Regions from separate parts of the Homo sapiens genome. Here region 1 is linked to region 2. Evidence: fine-mapped expression QTL. Tissue or cell type: whole blood. Region 2 holds a variant in brackets; the other region holds the start of a gene. All regions are shown on one strand. Distances are from middle to middle.

Region 1 (8,181 bases), 24 kb before region 2:
AATCCTAGTTCACTGCAACCTCTGACTCCCAGGTTCAAGCAATTCTCTTGCCTCGGCCTCCTAAGTAGCTGGGATTACAAGCACCCACCACCATACCTGGCTAATTTTTGTATTTTTAGTAGGACACGGTTTCACCATGTTGGCCAGGCTGTCTCGAACTCCTGACCTCGTGATCTGCCCTCCTCGGCCTCCCAAAGTGCTGGGATTACAGGCATGAGCCACCGCGCCTGGTCACATTCTTTATTTTCTTGCTGAATCTCATGTGAATTGAATGTTGACCACAACTTTTCTAATCAATAGGCTATTTTCATAACCCGCTTATTGGCCCCTCTAACAGTATTATAACCTATGTTGGATATCATTTACTAAAAGGACCATCATCTCTTCCAGATCAAAACAATTTAAAACATTTAACCAAGAATAAGTCATAGGAGCAGCATAGCATAGTGGTTAAGAGCCCAGACCGGGAAGCCAAACTGCCCAAGTCTGAAGTCAGACCTGGAAGTTCAGACTCGCTACTGATGCATCTACTCACTACTTGGGTGACCTTGGGCAAGTGACTTAATGACTCAGTGCCCCATTTCCTCACCTGTAAAATGGGGATAATCATTAGAATGAGCTTATGAAGTGAGCTAATATTTGTAAAGTACTTAGGACAGAACCTGGCACATAGTAAAAACCTAAATGTTCATCAAGCTATTAAAAATTGGTAGTTCGATAGCAGACCTTTCAAGTATGACCACAAAGTAAACAGGCTTCAAAATTTAAAACATGCAAATGATTCTTTAAAACTGATCATTTCAGGAATATATGCATATTCCAGTGATATCACCATTGCTGAAAAACATTTCCAAAACTTCTTTTTTGGAATAGCCTTTATGAGCCACATTAAGAACAAAGCAGGCGAACAAAGCAGGCCAGGCGCGGTGGCTCATGCCTATAATCCTAGCACTTTGGGAGGCTGAGGCAGGCGGATCACTTGAGGTTAGGAGTTCAAGACCAGCCTGGCCAACATGGTGAAACCTCGTCTATACCGAAAATATGAAAAAAAAAAAAAAAAATTAGCTGGGTATGGTGGCCGGCACCTGTAATCCCAGCTACTCAGGAGGCTGAGGCAGGAGAATCGCTCAAACCCGGGAGGAGGAGGTTGCAGTGAGCCGAGATTGGCCACTGCACTCCAGCCTGGGCAAAAGGGTGAGATTCCATCTCAAATAAAAGAAAAAAAAAAAGGCCGGGCACAGTGGCTCACACCTGTAATCCCAGCACTTTGGGAGGCCGAGGCGGGCGGATCACGAGGTCAGGAGATTGAGACTATCCTGCTAACATGGTGAAACCCCGTCTCTACTAAAAACACAAAAAACTAGCTGGGCGTGGTGGTGGGCACCTGCAGTCCCAGCTACTCGGGAGGCTGAGGCAGGAGAATGGCGTGAACCCGGGAGGCAGAACTTGCAGTGAGCCGAGAGCGCGCGACCGCACTCCACTCCAGCCTGGGTGACAGAGAGAGACTCCGTTTCAAAAAAAAAAAAAAAGAACAAAGCAAAAACTTCTTACTTTGTGGTCACACCTCATCTTTATTGCTTCCTAACTGGTATTATCCAGCTCTATTGCCCTACTTTTACCCATCAGATTTACTCTTTTTAAAAATCAGATTCTGGCCAGGCACAGTGGCTCGCGCATATTAATCCCAGCACTTGGAAGGCTGAGGTGGGAATGTCAGTTGAGCCTGGAACTTCAAGGCCAGCCTGGACAACATGCTGAAACCCCATCTCTAACAAAAATACAAAAATGAGCTGGGTGTGGTGGCATGCACCTGTGGTCCCAGCTACTCGTGAGACTGTGGTGGGAGGATCGCTTGAGTCCAGGAAGTTGAGGCTGCAGTAAGCTGTAATCACTCCACTGCACTCCAGCCTGGGTGACAAAATGAGACCCTGCCTCCAAAAAAATAAAAATAAAAATCAGATTATTTACAAATAATAAAATTTGCTACCACTGCAGATACTCAAACGACAGTTTCAGGGGCTGTTATACAGTCTGTTCAGTTTGCTTCAAGTTACACTGGGAGGATGTGTTCACTTATTTCAAACTATGTAACTGGAGATATTCAGGCTATAGAAAGTTAGCTAATATAGAAAACATACTGCTAAAACAATGCTCTAATGGTACATCCACAATTTTCTGAAGCTAGAATGAAGATAGATAATTATGTATTATTGGCAGGGCACGGTGGCTCACGCCTGTAATCCCAGCACTTTGTGAGGCTGAGGCAGGCGGATCACGAGGTGAGGAGTTCGAGACCAGCCTGACCAACATGGTGAAACCCTGTCTCTACTAAATATACAAAAATTAGCAGGGCATCGTGGTGCGCACCTGTAATCCCAGCTACTCAGGAGGCTGAGGCAGGAGAATCGCTTGAATCCAGGAGGTGGAGGTTGCAGTGAGCCGAGATTGTGCCACTGCACTCCAGCCTGGGCAACAGAGGGAGACTCCATCAAAGAAAAAAAAAATTATTATTCTCTGCCCGCCCCCACCCCATCTTTCTTTAATACCAGATCTCAATACGGACACAGTCTCAAAAGCATGACAATTTTTACGTAAAGCATTATCATACTGTGTATGACCTTCAGAAATCTAGCAACAATCAACTCATTTGAGTTTAAAACAGCCTGTCCAAAATGCCTTTTATTTACAAGGAAATTATTCTTTGTACAATGGTAAGAAAATCTATTTTCAATGATATTGTTTCTGGTTAACAGTTCTAAAATGGACTGACGTTAGAAGAGTTCTTTCAGAACTCACTGTTGGCAATATATGCCTTTTTACTGAAATTCTACTACTCTCAAAGGTGACATTTACAGAATTTTTAACTCTTCAAAGTTGATCATAAACACGGTCTCTCTTTGATTCTATCAGACTTCTTTTTTACTTTATGGAGTGCTCAGAAACTTACGTCAGAAGTAATTTTAAGCTTTAGTAACCAAATTTATCCCAGCATGGTTTAAAATGAAAACAAAAATAAGTTGTTTTGCAGATGTCATGAAAGCAAGATCTAAGTTTTACTAAGGTTCCTACTTATTTTAAGCTCTTTATCCAACTTCAATTTATTTAATTTAAAAAAATCAAAAGAACTACAGCTTCAGAAGATTTAGCAACTTCTATCTGGATCAAGTCAACCTCTAACCAGGGCTGGCCAAAGGTTTTGTTTCTCACGCACTCTAATTTTAAATAACAATAATTTTAATAATAATTCAGAAGAAATACTTCACTTGGTTTCCCTTTACTTCTCTTCAGCCCATGACTTAACGCTGCACTGTGCCCATCAACTTCACGATTTAGCAAAGCAATTAACCAGCAACTCCTGAACAAGCTTCACAGGAAGATTTTTCTCATGACTGAGCAGCCGTTTTTATCCTAGGTGAGTTTTCTCAAAAATAATTGAGTAAGTAATCTACCAGCTTCTGGCATATCTTTGGCAAGTCACATTTTCTGCCTTGTTTTGTAGCTGAGAAGGGTATAAAAATCCCACGAAAAGAAACCAGAACTCCGAGCCTAGAAATGTAAATTATGATCCAAGCTAAACCACTCACCAGTTGGTTGAACCTAAGTATAAATAATTACCCCCATCCCAGCTCCATTTACCCATCGAAATGGCGATAACATAATCAGTTGCAACCACAAGGTGATGCGGTTAGAAAAAGATAGGAAGAAGAGTGCTCTGAAACGTGTAAAGGTGCTACGTAAATAGAAGGTAATAATCAGTGGTGACAGAACTCTCACCTCCTTTGCAAAACTTAAAGGGTCATCTCATGGCTTACAGCAAGAAAAGAGTCGAGCACAAGTAACCCGAGCCCGTTGGTGACACTTTGCCGAACTCCAGGGGGAGGATGATTAGCAGTTCCGGGCGGGAGTCAGGAGAATGCCAATCCGAGCCCAACGTGGGCTGCTCGCGCTCTCGCCCCCCATGGGAGAGAGGCACTGAGAGATCAAAATGCAACCCCGCTCCAAGCCACCCTCGCAAATGAAGGAATTTCGAAGAGGGGGTAGGAGGAGGCGGGCTGGGCGCGCCGCTGCCACCTCCGACTGGGCCACTCCTTGCGCCGCCAGCGCCCCAGCCCACGGTGCCACGTCCCGGCCTCCGTCACCGCCAGCCCTCACCCTACCCGGAACGGGGCACATCTTCCGGAGGCCACCGGAATCGTTCCCTTGCAGGCGCCCCTGGGGGGCCACACATCGGACCAGGGAAGGGAGGGGACAGTTAGAGCGGTTGGAACAGTTGCCCCCAGGCTGGCCGCCCCGGAACCCGGCCCGGCCCGCCCCGGCGGAGCCTCAGACACGGCCCCGGGCCGGGAAGGCTCCCCAAGGGCAGGCCTCGGCGCCGCCGGCCCAGCGCAGCCCCTTAGGGAGCGGCCCCGCGCTGCAGGCTCACCTCCAATGTGTCAAAAGCGCATGTTCGCCGCCGCTCAACCGACGTCTCCCCTCCGCCGGCCCGGCCAGGCCCGCCCAGCCGCTCGGCTCAGCTCCCCTACGCAGCCCCGAGCTCCACTCAGCGTACCTCCGCGCCCGGCTCCTCCCCGACACGTCAGGGACTGCCTGGGTGTCCGAGGCCATTCTGTGACGCACGGGGGCGGGGCTCGGAGCATGCGCGGCAGCGCACGGGTATGCGGGGCGGGGTGGGGCGGGGCTGGTGTCACAGGGGGCGGGCCAGAGCCCGGCGCGCTGACGCCAAGCTGACGGCGTCCTCTTGCGCAGGCGTCCTCTTGCGCAGGCGCTCCTGGACTCTGCGACCGGCTGGTTTTGGCTTGTGCAGTTCCCTGAAACTGCTATTCGGGAGAGTGGTGCCAAGACGGATGGGAACCTGCCTTCAGTTTTCTGGCCACCAAGGCCCTTCAAGTGTCCATGTGTCTGTGTTCCCGTTTATAAAATGAATCTCGGCTCATAGTTCACCTCCGAGTCCATTCCCCCTGCTCGAACACCCAATGGAACATCAGGAGCATTCTAAGCATCACTCTCACAAAGCTCTGTGTTGTTTTTACAGAACTTCCACTGTTTACATTTTGTATTTGTTCTCATCTTCCTCCAGTAGAATTCTAAGTTCTATGAGAGCTAGAACCTCTTATGCCTTGCTCATCCCAACAGATAACTTGGTTCTAGGCAAAGTGGACGCTCAAATATTTGATGAATGAATGAATGGATTCGTTGGCACAAAGGGGATTTTATATTTGCCCATTTATATATTGTATATATCTGAGCATATATTCATTTTTGTATACATGCGTGTACGTGTGTGTATGGGTGTGACTTTCTCCCCTCCAGGTCCCCCAAGAAATGGAGTCCTATGTGTATATATATACCTCTTACAATCCATCTTGGTTTTTGTTTGTTTGTTTGTTTGTTTGTTTTTGAGACGGAGTTTCGCTCTTGTTGCCCAGGCTGGAGTGCAGTGGCGCGATCTCGGCTCACTGCAACCTCCGCCTCCCAGGTTTAAGCAATTCTCCTGCCTCAGCCTCCCTAGTAGCTGGGATTACAGGCGCCTGCCACCACGCCCGACTAATTTTTGTATTTTTAGTAGAGACGGGGTTTCACCATGTTGGCCAGGCTGGTCTCGAACTCCTGACCTCGTGATCCGCCCGCCTCGGCCTCCCAAAGTGCTGGGATTACAGGCGTGAGACACAGCGCCCGGCCCCATCTTGCATTATTAATGTTTATATATTTTTAGTACGTAAACACACACGTGTATGTGTGTGTGCGCGCGTGTGTATTCCCTAGCGGACTTGGAAGCAAGCTGGAGACGATACTAGCCCAAAAAGGAGGGAAAGAGGGATAGGCAACTTACATAGGGAGTGGAAACTTAAAGGAAGAGATACATTTTAAAAACAATTTTAAGAACTTTTGCTGTATAATGTACAAGGTAATCCTTTCCTTTAGGAGATGGGGTCTACTGTGTTGCCCAGGCTGGTCAAGAACTCCTGACTTCGGCCAGGCGCTGCAGCACTTTGGGAAGCCGAGGCGGGCAAATCACCTGAGGCCAGGACTTCGAGACCAGCCTGGCCAACATGGTGAAACCCTGTCTCTACTAAAAGTACAAAAATTAGCCAGGCATGATGGTGGGCACCTGTAATCCTAGCTACTCCGGAGGCTGAGGCAGGAGAATCGCTCGAACCCGGGAGGCGGAGGTTGCAGTGAGCACCACTGCACTCTAACCTGGGCGACAGAGTGAGACTCCGTCTAAAAACAAACAAAACAAAACAAAAAAGAACTCCTGACTTCAGGCAATCTTCCCACCTCAGCCCCCCACAAAGTCCTGGGATTACAGGCACCAGCCTCCATGCGGCACGCAATGTAATCCTTTCCAATTTCAGTGCTTTTAGGATTGGATTTGTGGGTGTGAACACAAAAATAATGTGTAAGACATGCCTCAAGGTGAAAACAAAGTGAGCCTAGGAGGCCCAGTTTATATTTTTGAGGGCGATGGACATAAACAGGAACAATGCAAGATGGATTGTAAGAGGTACCCAAATCAATAAAGATCAGAGAAGGGATTAATGGGGTTTGTGGGAAAGGTAACATATTACATATGCCTATTATGAATAATATTATGAATAATATGCATATTATGAAAAAACTATGCATGGATTTCCAATTTTTTTTTTGCACAGGGCCAAGCATGGTGGCCCATACCTGTAATCCCAGCACTCTGGGAAGCTGAGGTAGACAGATCACTTGAGCCCAGAAGTTCGAGACCAGCCTGGGCAGCACAGTGAGACACCTGTCTCTAAAAAAATAAAATAAATGTTTGCACCAAAATAAATTTGTTCTAACTTGCTATAACATGTCTGAACAGGATCTAGCTTGAAGCACCAAGAAAGATAAGAAATCAGTTTGAAGAGAGTCCCTATCAGAACACATATTCTACAAAATTGAAGCAATACAAAATACTAAATTTATGGTGAAGCCTGGGTGGAAAAATGGTGGAATCATTGACGCTTTATAAAAGTGTAAAAGGACAAAGCCCCAAAAGAAGTCAGCAGTTTACAAATGGATAATTCATTTTAAGAAGAAACATGATGATGTTGAAGATGAAGCCCACAGCAGCAGACCCTCCACATCAATTTGTGAGGAAAAAAAGTAATCTTGTTCATGTGCTAATTGAAAAGGATCAATGATTAACAGCAGAAACAATAGCCAGCACCACAGATATCTCAACAGATTTGGCCTACACAATCCTTACTGAAAAATTAAAGTTGAGCTAACTTTCCACCCAATGGGTGGCAAAACCATTGTGCCCAGGTCAGCTGCTGACAAGAACAGAGCTTTCAAAATTTCACACATTTTAAACAAGTGGGATCAAGATCCTGAAGCTTTTTTTTTTTTTGAAGAATTGTAACCAAGAATGAAACTTCGCTTTACCAGTACAATCCTGAAGACAAAGCGGTGGCTACCAAGAGATGGAAGTAGTCCAGTCAAAGCAAAGTGAACCAGTCAAGAGCAAAAATCATGGCAACCATTTTGTGGGTTGTTCTAGGCATTTTGCTTTCTGGAGGGCTAAAGAATAATAACGTACTTATTACGAGAGTGTTTTGAGAAGATTAGCCAAAGCTTTAGTGGAAAAATGCCCAGGAAACCTTCATCAGAGAGACCTTTCCACCATGATAAAGTTCCTGCTCATTTCTCTCATCAAACAAGGGCAATTTTGCAAGAGTTTCAGTGGAAAATCAGTAGACATCACCTTACAGTCCCAATTTGGCTCCCTCTGAAGACTTTTTGTTTCCTAATCTTAAAAAATCTTTAGGCCAGGCGCAGTGGCTCATGCCTGTAATCCCAGCACTTTGGGAAGCCGAGGCAGGCGGATCACGAGGTCAGGAGATCGAGACCATCCTGGCTAACACGGTGAAAACCCGTCTCTACTAAAAATCCAAAAAATTAGCTGGGTGTAGTGGTGGACGCCTGTAGTCCCAGCTACTTGGGAGGCTGAGGCAGGAGAATGGCATGAACCCGGGAGGCGGAGCTTGCAGTGAGCCGAGATCGCGCCACTACACTCCAGCCTGGGCAACAGAGCGAGACTCTGTCTCAAAAAATATATATATATTGGCCTGCCATTAAATATATATATATTTATATTTATATTTATATATAATATATATATTTATATATAAATATATATATATATCTCTTTAAAGGGTAGCC
Region 2 (8,181 bases):
AAGTACAAAGGATCCTGAATCATAATAGCAGAAGACTTCAACAATAAACTAGAAGCTTGAAAACAATGAACCATTGCCTTTAACATTCAGAGAAAAAAATCATTTCCAACAAGTATTCTAAATCAAGCCAGACCCTTCAACAAGTATAAGAATAGAATGAAGGACTGTTTCCAGATAGTCAAAACCTATCAAAATTACCTCCTGTCATTGGAAGATGCATGTCACCAAAACAGGGAAGAAAATAAAGGGGAAAATGTGAGATCCATACAAACAGACAAGTACTGTATGATTCTCCTCATATGAGGTAATTAGAAGAGTGAAATTCATAGAAACGGAAAGTAGAATGATGGTTGCCAGGGCCTGGGAGGGAGGGGAAAATGGGGATTCAGTGCTTAATGGGTACAGAGTTTCAGTTTGGGAAGATGAAGAAGTTCTGGAGATGGGTGGTGGTGACAGTAAGCACAACAATGTGAACGTACTTAATGCCACTGAACTGTACGCTTAAAAATGATTAAAATGGGCCAGGCGCGGTGGCTCATGCCTGTAATCCCAGCACTTTGGGAGGCGGAGACGGGTGGATCACGAGGTCAGGTGTTCAAGACCAGCCTGGCCATCATGGTGAAACCCCATCTCTACTAAAAATACAAAAAAGTAGCCGGACATGGTGGCAGGCGCCTGTAATCCCGGCTACTCAGGAGGCTGAGGCAGGAGAATCGCTTGAACCTGGGAGACAGAGGTTGCAGTGAACTGAGATCGCGCCATCACACTCCAGCCTGGGCAACAGTGCGAGACTCCATCTATTTACCACAATAAAAAATGTAAAATGGGCAAGGCACATTAAAAATGGAAAATAGGTGTCTCACGCCTGTAATCCCAGCGCTGGGAGACCGAGGCAAGAGCCCAGGAGTTCCAGAACAGCCTAGGCAACATGGTGAAGCCCTGTCTCTACAAAAAATACAAAAATCAGCCAAGTATGGCAGCACGTGCCTGTAGTCCCAGCTACTCAGGAGGCTGAGCTAAGAGAATCACCCGAGCCCAGGGAGGTCGAGGCTGCAGTGAGCTGTGATTGCGCCACTGCACTCCAGCCTGGGCAACAGAGTGAGACCCTATCTCTAAATAAATAAATAAATAAATAAATGTTAAAACTATAAAGTGGCAAAAAAAAGTATACATATAAATTAAAAAGTGGCAAAACCTCGTCTCTAAAAAAATGCAAAAAATTAGCCAAGTATGATGGCAGACACCTGTGGCCCCAGCTACTTGGCAGGCTGAGGTGGGAGGATGGCTTAAGCCCGGGAATTCAAGACTGTAGTAAGCTGTGATCGCACCACTGCACTCCAGCCTGGGCAACAGAGCAAGATCCCATCTCAAAAAAGAAAGAAAGAGAGAAAGAGAGAGGGAGAGAGGGAGACAGAGAGACAGAAAGAGAGAAGAGGCAGGAGGGAGGGAGGGAGGGAGGGAGGAAGAAAGGAAGGTGGTATCCAAAAGAGAGAGGATTCACACAAGAAAGAGAAAAGGGAACTCCTAAGATGACAACATTCAGCAGTCCTGGGGAGAAACCAATCCAAGAGGGAGCAGTAGGATGAGGCACCAGGCAGATGTCTCTGAGGAATAAGAGAAAGAGACTGAGAGATAATCTAATAGATAATAGAGACTGAGAGATAATCTAATGTGTTGATCATATTGCCAGGAATTTTATAGGTCTGTTAGAGAGGAATCAGTGATATGTATCTAAAAACTAAGCAAATGAAGGTACAGTGGCTCAAGCCTGTAATCCCAGCTACTCAGGAGGCTGAGGTGGGAGGATCTCTTGAGGCCAGTGTTTCACACCAGGCTGGGCAACATAGCAAGACCCGGCCTCAAATAAATAAATAAGATGGTATGACACTTTTTTTTTTTGAGATGGAGTCTCGCTCTGTCGTCCAGGCTAGAGTGCAGTGGCGCGATCTCAGCTCACTGCCAGCTCCGCCTCCCAAGTTCACACCATTCTCCTGCCTCAGCCTCCCGGGTAGCTGGGACTACAGGTGCCCAACACCACGCCCGGCTAATTTTTTGTATTTTTAGTAGAGACGGGGTTTCACCATGTTAGCCAGGATGGTCTCGATATCCTGACCTCATGATCCGCCAGCCTTGGCCTCCCAAAGTGCTGGGATTACAGGCGTGAGCCACCGCGCCCGGCCATGGTACGACATTTCTTAAGGGAATCTGGACAAATGAATGAAAACTAAATATATGTACAACCTTTCACCTAGCAATCCAACATCTAAGGATTTATTCTAAGGAAATAATAGTATGCAAAGATGTACATTCAGTGATGTTTACTGTGGCACTGTTTATTATTATAGAAATAAATTGGAAACACCCTAAACACCCACCAATAGGAGACTGGTTTAATAAATCATGGTACAGCCACACAATGGAATACTACATAGCTGTTAAAAAGGACAAGGTAGATAATTATGAATTAACAAGAGATGACACTCAAGAGATACTATTAAGTGAAAAAAAGGTTGAAAGACAGTAAGTAGAATTTGACATAAAAATATTCATTTAAAAGTCTAGATGTCTATATGCCAAAATATTAATCTTTAGAGATAGAATTATGCAAACACTTTCAATGTCTCTGTACTGATTAAATTTTTATCAGATATTATATTATCAGGAAAAATCATCTAGTTCCATTTACAAAATGAAATAAAAGTAACCCCAAACCCTGAAGAATACAATCATACAGTTTACAAAACACCTTCACAATCATCATTCTGCTTAAGTTTACAAACATCCAAAAAAATAGAGATGTCTTACATTTTGTAGATGAGAAAACACGTTCAGAGGGAAGCAAATGGCCCATGAGCAGTGAAGTCAAGGTCCCAGGACATGATCGCAAGCCCCTAACTTGGTCAGCTCAGCATGGCTTCAGTGCATCTCACTGACTGTCTCTGTTGGCTCCAGATAAACCTGTCAGAACCCTATGAACTCCCTCTGCAACCCAGAAAAATGCTATGTGGGCAGTTCAGGAAATAGGAAACCAAATCAAGGTGATCAGAATATCAGGGGGAAGATGTGCGCAAATGATATGGTTTCAGGAAACCACCAAAGCCGTCTCTTTATGTCACCCAACCCTCATGCCACAGGGACATAACCAACTTTCCAAATGGACCTCAGCCTTTGACAATCCGCCTGCCTCATGGGCACAGAGGGTCCTCAGACATCAGGAGCCCCCCATTCTGGCATCTCTCAGGCAAACCCTCATGTGGCCCAGACCTTCTCCAATCAGCTCTTTCCTCCCAATGTACCTGGTCCTGTGTCTCAGGCCTCAGCTGATCAGATCCACGGCAGCATACGGGGCCCACGCTGAACTTGCTGACACAAAGTAGAAGTCAATAGGAAGAGTGAGAATCACCGTCCGACCAAAGATACGCAAGGATGGGAAATGGATTAGAGCCAGGAAGGCTGGGGCCTGCTGCCCTGAAGTGAGGCAACCCTGCCCGCCTCATCACTCAGCTGGGGTTGAGCAAGACTTCAGTGCTTCGGGAAGGAAAGAAGAAATTCAAGTTCTCAGCCAGGCCTTCAGCCTTCCCATCTCCCCTGCATGTGTAGTTTGGAAGCCACTGGTCTTCCAGACAGATGTCCTGTTCTCTCCTCCACTTTCCTGCCTTCATCCCCGTATTTGGAGGGTAAAGGCATGGGGAAGAGCTGTCACTACTTAAGGTGGGGAGACAGTGAATGCCAGTGTTGTTTGTCTCTCCACAAGGGCCAAGCACATAACATGGTACACAAGAGAATGAACTTGTCCCATAGCCTCCACCTGCCACTTGTAGCTGTGAGAACTTGAAACCGGGCACGGTGGCTGACACCTGTAATCCCAGCACTTTGGGAGGCCGAGGCGAGTGGATCACCTAAGGTCAGGAGTTCAAGAACAGCCTGGCCAACATGGTGAAATCCT[G/A]TCTCTACTAAAAATACAAAAATTAGCCAGGCATGGTGGCACACACCTGTAATCCCACGTACTCGGGAGGCTGAGGCAGGAGAATCACTTGAACCCGGGAGGCGGAGGTTGCAGTGAGCCAAGATTGTGCCACTGCACTCCAGCTTGGGCGACAGAGCAAGACTCCATCTCAACAAAAAAAGAACTTGAGCAAGTTGCTTTGCTCTCTGAGTCTCATTTGCCTCATCTATAAACGGAAACAATGCTGGTACTGACCTCATAGTATTTTGTAGGGCTTAAATGAGATAACGTGCGTAATTGGCTCCACCCAAGTCCAATTAGTCCCTTTAGCTGTTAGTGGTTGTCCCCTTCCAGCCCTATCAGATCTGACTCACTCCTTATGGCTTTATTAGGTCAGACACCCTGGTCTAAAGAGTCCCCTGAACACTCTTGCCTCTGCAGTGGCTGTAGGTCTCATGCATCAATTAGTCTTACGATCTAGAAGAAGCACCATTGTTAAGAAGGGCTAGGAGACCCTTCACTAATCATTCTTTTCCTTTTCCCGGGGTGATGTCTTTTCTCCCCAGGGTCAGCCGTGAAGGTAGGGGCTGTGTGGATTTGTCTCTGTATCCCCAGGGGCACTCATCAGAGCCCTGGAGGTTAAGTCCATAAATATTTGTGGATCTTAGAGGTTCATAGAAACATCACCCCTATTTAAAGCATGTGGGTAAACTTAGGGACCTGGGCTGAGGAATCCATAGCAGTGGGACTGAGGCTTTTACAGGATGTGGCAAAGCCATGCACGCAGGCAGGATCAGGGTGACACTTGGCTCCTCTTAGCTCCTCTCGCAAGTTCCTAAAGCTCCTAAAGATGTGAAATAGGGGCGTGTGTGGAAAGCCGCTGCTTGATCTGCCTGGAAATCCTGCCCACCTCCATCTCCAGAAGGAAGGCTGCTTCCTGCTTAGCCTCAGCACACTTAAATCCCCCTCAAAAGCAGCTCTTGGGTTTGCCACCTGCTAATCAAGGCACCTGACCTCTTCCTGGCTCTCTGTCCTCACCTCCTGACACCCTTCTTCTCAGATGATGGATATCCTGACAACTGAGATGGCATCCTCTTCACCCAAGCTGGAGTGCAGTGGTGCGATCTTGGCCCACTGCAACCTCCACCTCCCGGCTTCAAGCAATTCTCTGCCTCAGCCTCCTGAGTAGCTGGGATTACAGGCGCCCACCACCATACCTGGCTAGTTTATATATTTTTAGTAGAGACGGGGTTTCACCATTTTGGCCAGGCTGGTCTTGAACTCCTCACCTCATGATCCACCCGCCTCAGCCTCCCAAAGTGCTGGGATTACAGGCGCGAGCCAATGCACCCAACCCAAGATGGCGCCTTCTTAAGGATTGACCCCCACCACTTGCTTCCTCCAATTTACCACCCTGCCAGGGTAACCTGCCTGACTCCATACTGCTTTAGGGTGCCCCAAGCCTTGTTGAGGTTTACTATGTGCTAGCCACTGTGCAAGTGTTTTATGTACAATATCCTGCTTTAATTCTCAAGTAACTTTCTAAGGTAGAGGCTATTACTATTCCCATTTTACAGATGAGGAAACTGAGACCCAAAGAAGTCATGCAACTTGCCCAAGGTCATGCCGTGAGTGGGCTCACACTCTAACTTGTATTTCAGACATTTCTGTGAAATTGTGTTCACTCTGGTAAACCCTTTGAGAGAAGAGCCTGGATTTGCTTCTCTCTCACCTCCCATATTGCATAGAGATGGAACTTTACACAGCATGTTCTAACAAATTTTAGAACTACTGGGCATGAGTCATCACCAGGGAGCTTGTTAGAAATGCAGAATCTCAGGCCCCACCCCAGTTCTACTGAATCAGAATTTGCATTTTCACAAGAGAAGCAGGTGAGGGTTTGCTCATCAAAGTTCGAGACCATACTGTTCGAAACTGAATTGAATGGATGGTGCTCTACAGAGACACCCACAAGCCAAACAAGCATAGGAAAACAAAGCAAAAATACCTACAGGGCTCCTGATCTTGGGAACTGCACTTCCGGAGGAAGCACAGCGCAAAAAGTTAGGGCTGAGAGGTTCCCCATGCCTCACTCAGTTTCCACTTCCCGGTGCTCCAGCAAGATCTTGGCTGGGAGTCTGGATAGCAACGAGACATCTTTAGAGCGCCACCTGCTGGCCGTGATTAGGTATGTATCGCTCATTTCGGCTCCAGGCATTCCCTCTCAAAGCTGCAGCTCAAGGTCTGAGCCTTCTGTAACGGATCCCTTGGTTCTTTATTTCTGCCCCTTCAACACTCACCATTCACTATTCCTGTCGCTGGTTCAGATAACTCGTTACTCTCTAAATGGCAATGATGCAGCACCCCCATGTTTGCTTAGCCCCTTGACCTTCTCAATTGAGTTCAGCTCATTAGGCATTTGTTGAGCTCCTACTGGGTGCAAAGCATTACGACTTCAACAGAACAGCCTTCTCACGAGCGTCAAAGCAAGTGGTCAGTAAATAAACCAGGCTCTTAGTGTTCTGACTCAGGGTAAAACCACAAAGATTTAATACTGGTCCCTATAAGAAAGCGTTTGCAACATTCACATGGACATTCTTTTTTTTTTTTTGAGACAGAGTCTCGCTCTGTCACCCGGACTAGAGTACAGTGGCGTGATCTCGGCTCACTGCAACCTCCACCTCCCGGGTTCAAGCGATTCTCCTGCCTCAGCCTCCTGAGTAGCTGGGATTACAGGAGCGTGCCACCACACCCAGCTAATTTTTGTATTTTTAGTAGAGACGGGGTTTCACCATGTTGGTCAGGCTGGTCTCGAACTCCTGACCTCATGACCTCATTTAGGAAGGCACAACCTTCCTAAAAGGCAAATTTACAATATTTATCACAAGGCCTTAAAACAATATTATCCTTTGAGTTATCGATTCCATTGCTAGTAATTTATTTTAAGGAAATACCACCAATATATTGCAGTAAAAACACTTACTGCAGACTTTTTTTTTTTTTTTTTGAGATGGAGTTTCACCCTTGTTGCCCAAGCTGGAGTGCAATGGCGCCATCTCAGCGCACCGCAACCCCCACCTCCCGGGTTCAAGCGATTCTCCTGCCTCAGTCTCCCTAGTAGCTGGGATTACAGGTGGATGCCATGATGCCCAGGTAATTTTTGTATTTTTAGTAGAGACAGGGTTTCACCATGATGGTCAAGGCTGGTTTCGAACTCCTGACTTCAGGTGATCCGCCCACCTCGGCCTCCCAAAGTGCTGGGATTACAGGCATGAGCCACTGCGCCCGGCCAACAATTTTTATAATAGGGAAAAATTGGAAACAACCTAAATATGAATCAACATGAGATTAATTAAGCAAATTACTACATCTATTTAAAAAGAGGATCTAAAAGAATGTTTATTGGGATTAAAAGTTAACAATTGAAAAAAAAAAAAAGGTCCCAAAAGCATTCATACAATGTGACCTCATTTATCTTAAAAATAATTATATATCATATGTATAAATACAACTATACATTTTAACATAATTATATATTATATGGCTATATATATATATGCACGCTGGAATAAACACCAAAATATTAATGGTAGTTTTCTGTAGAAGTGGTGTACAGCTTGTATTGTGTGTGTGTGTGTGTGTGTGTGTGTGTGTGCGTGTGTGTTTATGTGTGTGTTAAAATTTTCCACATTTTTTTTCAATAGTAGTGCTATTTTTATCATCCGAAAATAAGATTGTTCTTACTCTGAACTCTGTCCCTGACCCGGGCCTTACCTGTCTCAAGAATTGAGGCCTCCTAGCTGTCCGGGAGGATTTAAGCCCTGGGATGAACACTGCCAACTCAGAAAATCCTCCAAGGCGGCCAGCTCACGTCAAGCACTGTTTCTCCAAATGCTGCCGTGTCCCTGAGAACAAACCTCTCCACTGTCTTGGTGGCTTCCCTCCCCCGCCTGTCCTGAAGCATCTCTGCCCCGGGAGTGGGTCACTTGACAACAGTGAGAGGGAATCCGTGAGGTGGGTGCCAGGAGTGCAGCCCCGCGCTGCCCCGGCTGGCACAAGCTTGGGCCATGACTCAGCCCCTTTCTGCTCACCTGGTGTCCCGCCCTGCTGTCTCCACTTCCTCCCCAGCCCGCACCCTCGGGTCACCGTCCTTCCTTGCTAGTTTCATCCTGTTGAAAGAGTCCAAGCTACTTTTCTCTGAATTCTTTTGTTTGATCCACTTCAGTGGTTTCCCA

Evidence for each region. PIP is the estimated chance that this variant, and not a neighbour inherited with it, causes the effect.
Region 1: it holds the start of NDEL1, and the variant in region 2 is fine-mapped to the expression of NDEL1 in whole blood (INTERVAL, PIP above 0.99).

The regions. Positions count from the first base shown.
Region 1 is chr17:8,432,288-8,440,468 of GRCh38, reverse strand. NDEL1 (nudE neurodevelopment protein 1 like 1) reads right to left here and starts at 4,585. Exons shown (of 9, transcript NM_030808.5): 1 at 4,424-4,585. RefSeq lists silencers at 4,032-4,271, 4,312-4,511, 4,612-4,781.
Region 2 is chr17:8,408,385-8,416,565 of GRCh38, reverse strand. It overlaps a transcript of NDEL1 not described here. Among named protein-coding and RNA genes, the nearest start is that of RNF222, 15 kb to the right of the region's middle. RefSeq lists an enhancer at 5,981-6,275. The variant G/A (reference allele first, on the strand shown) is at 3,947.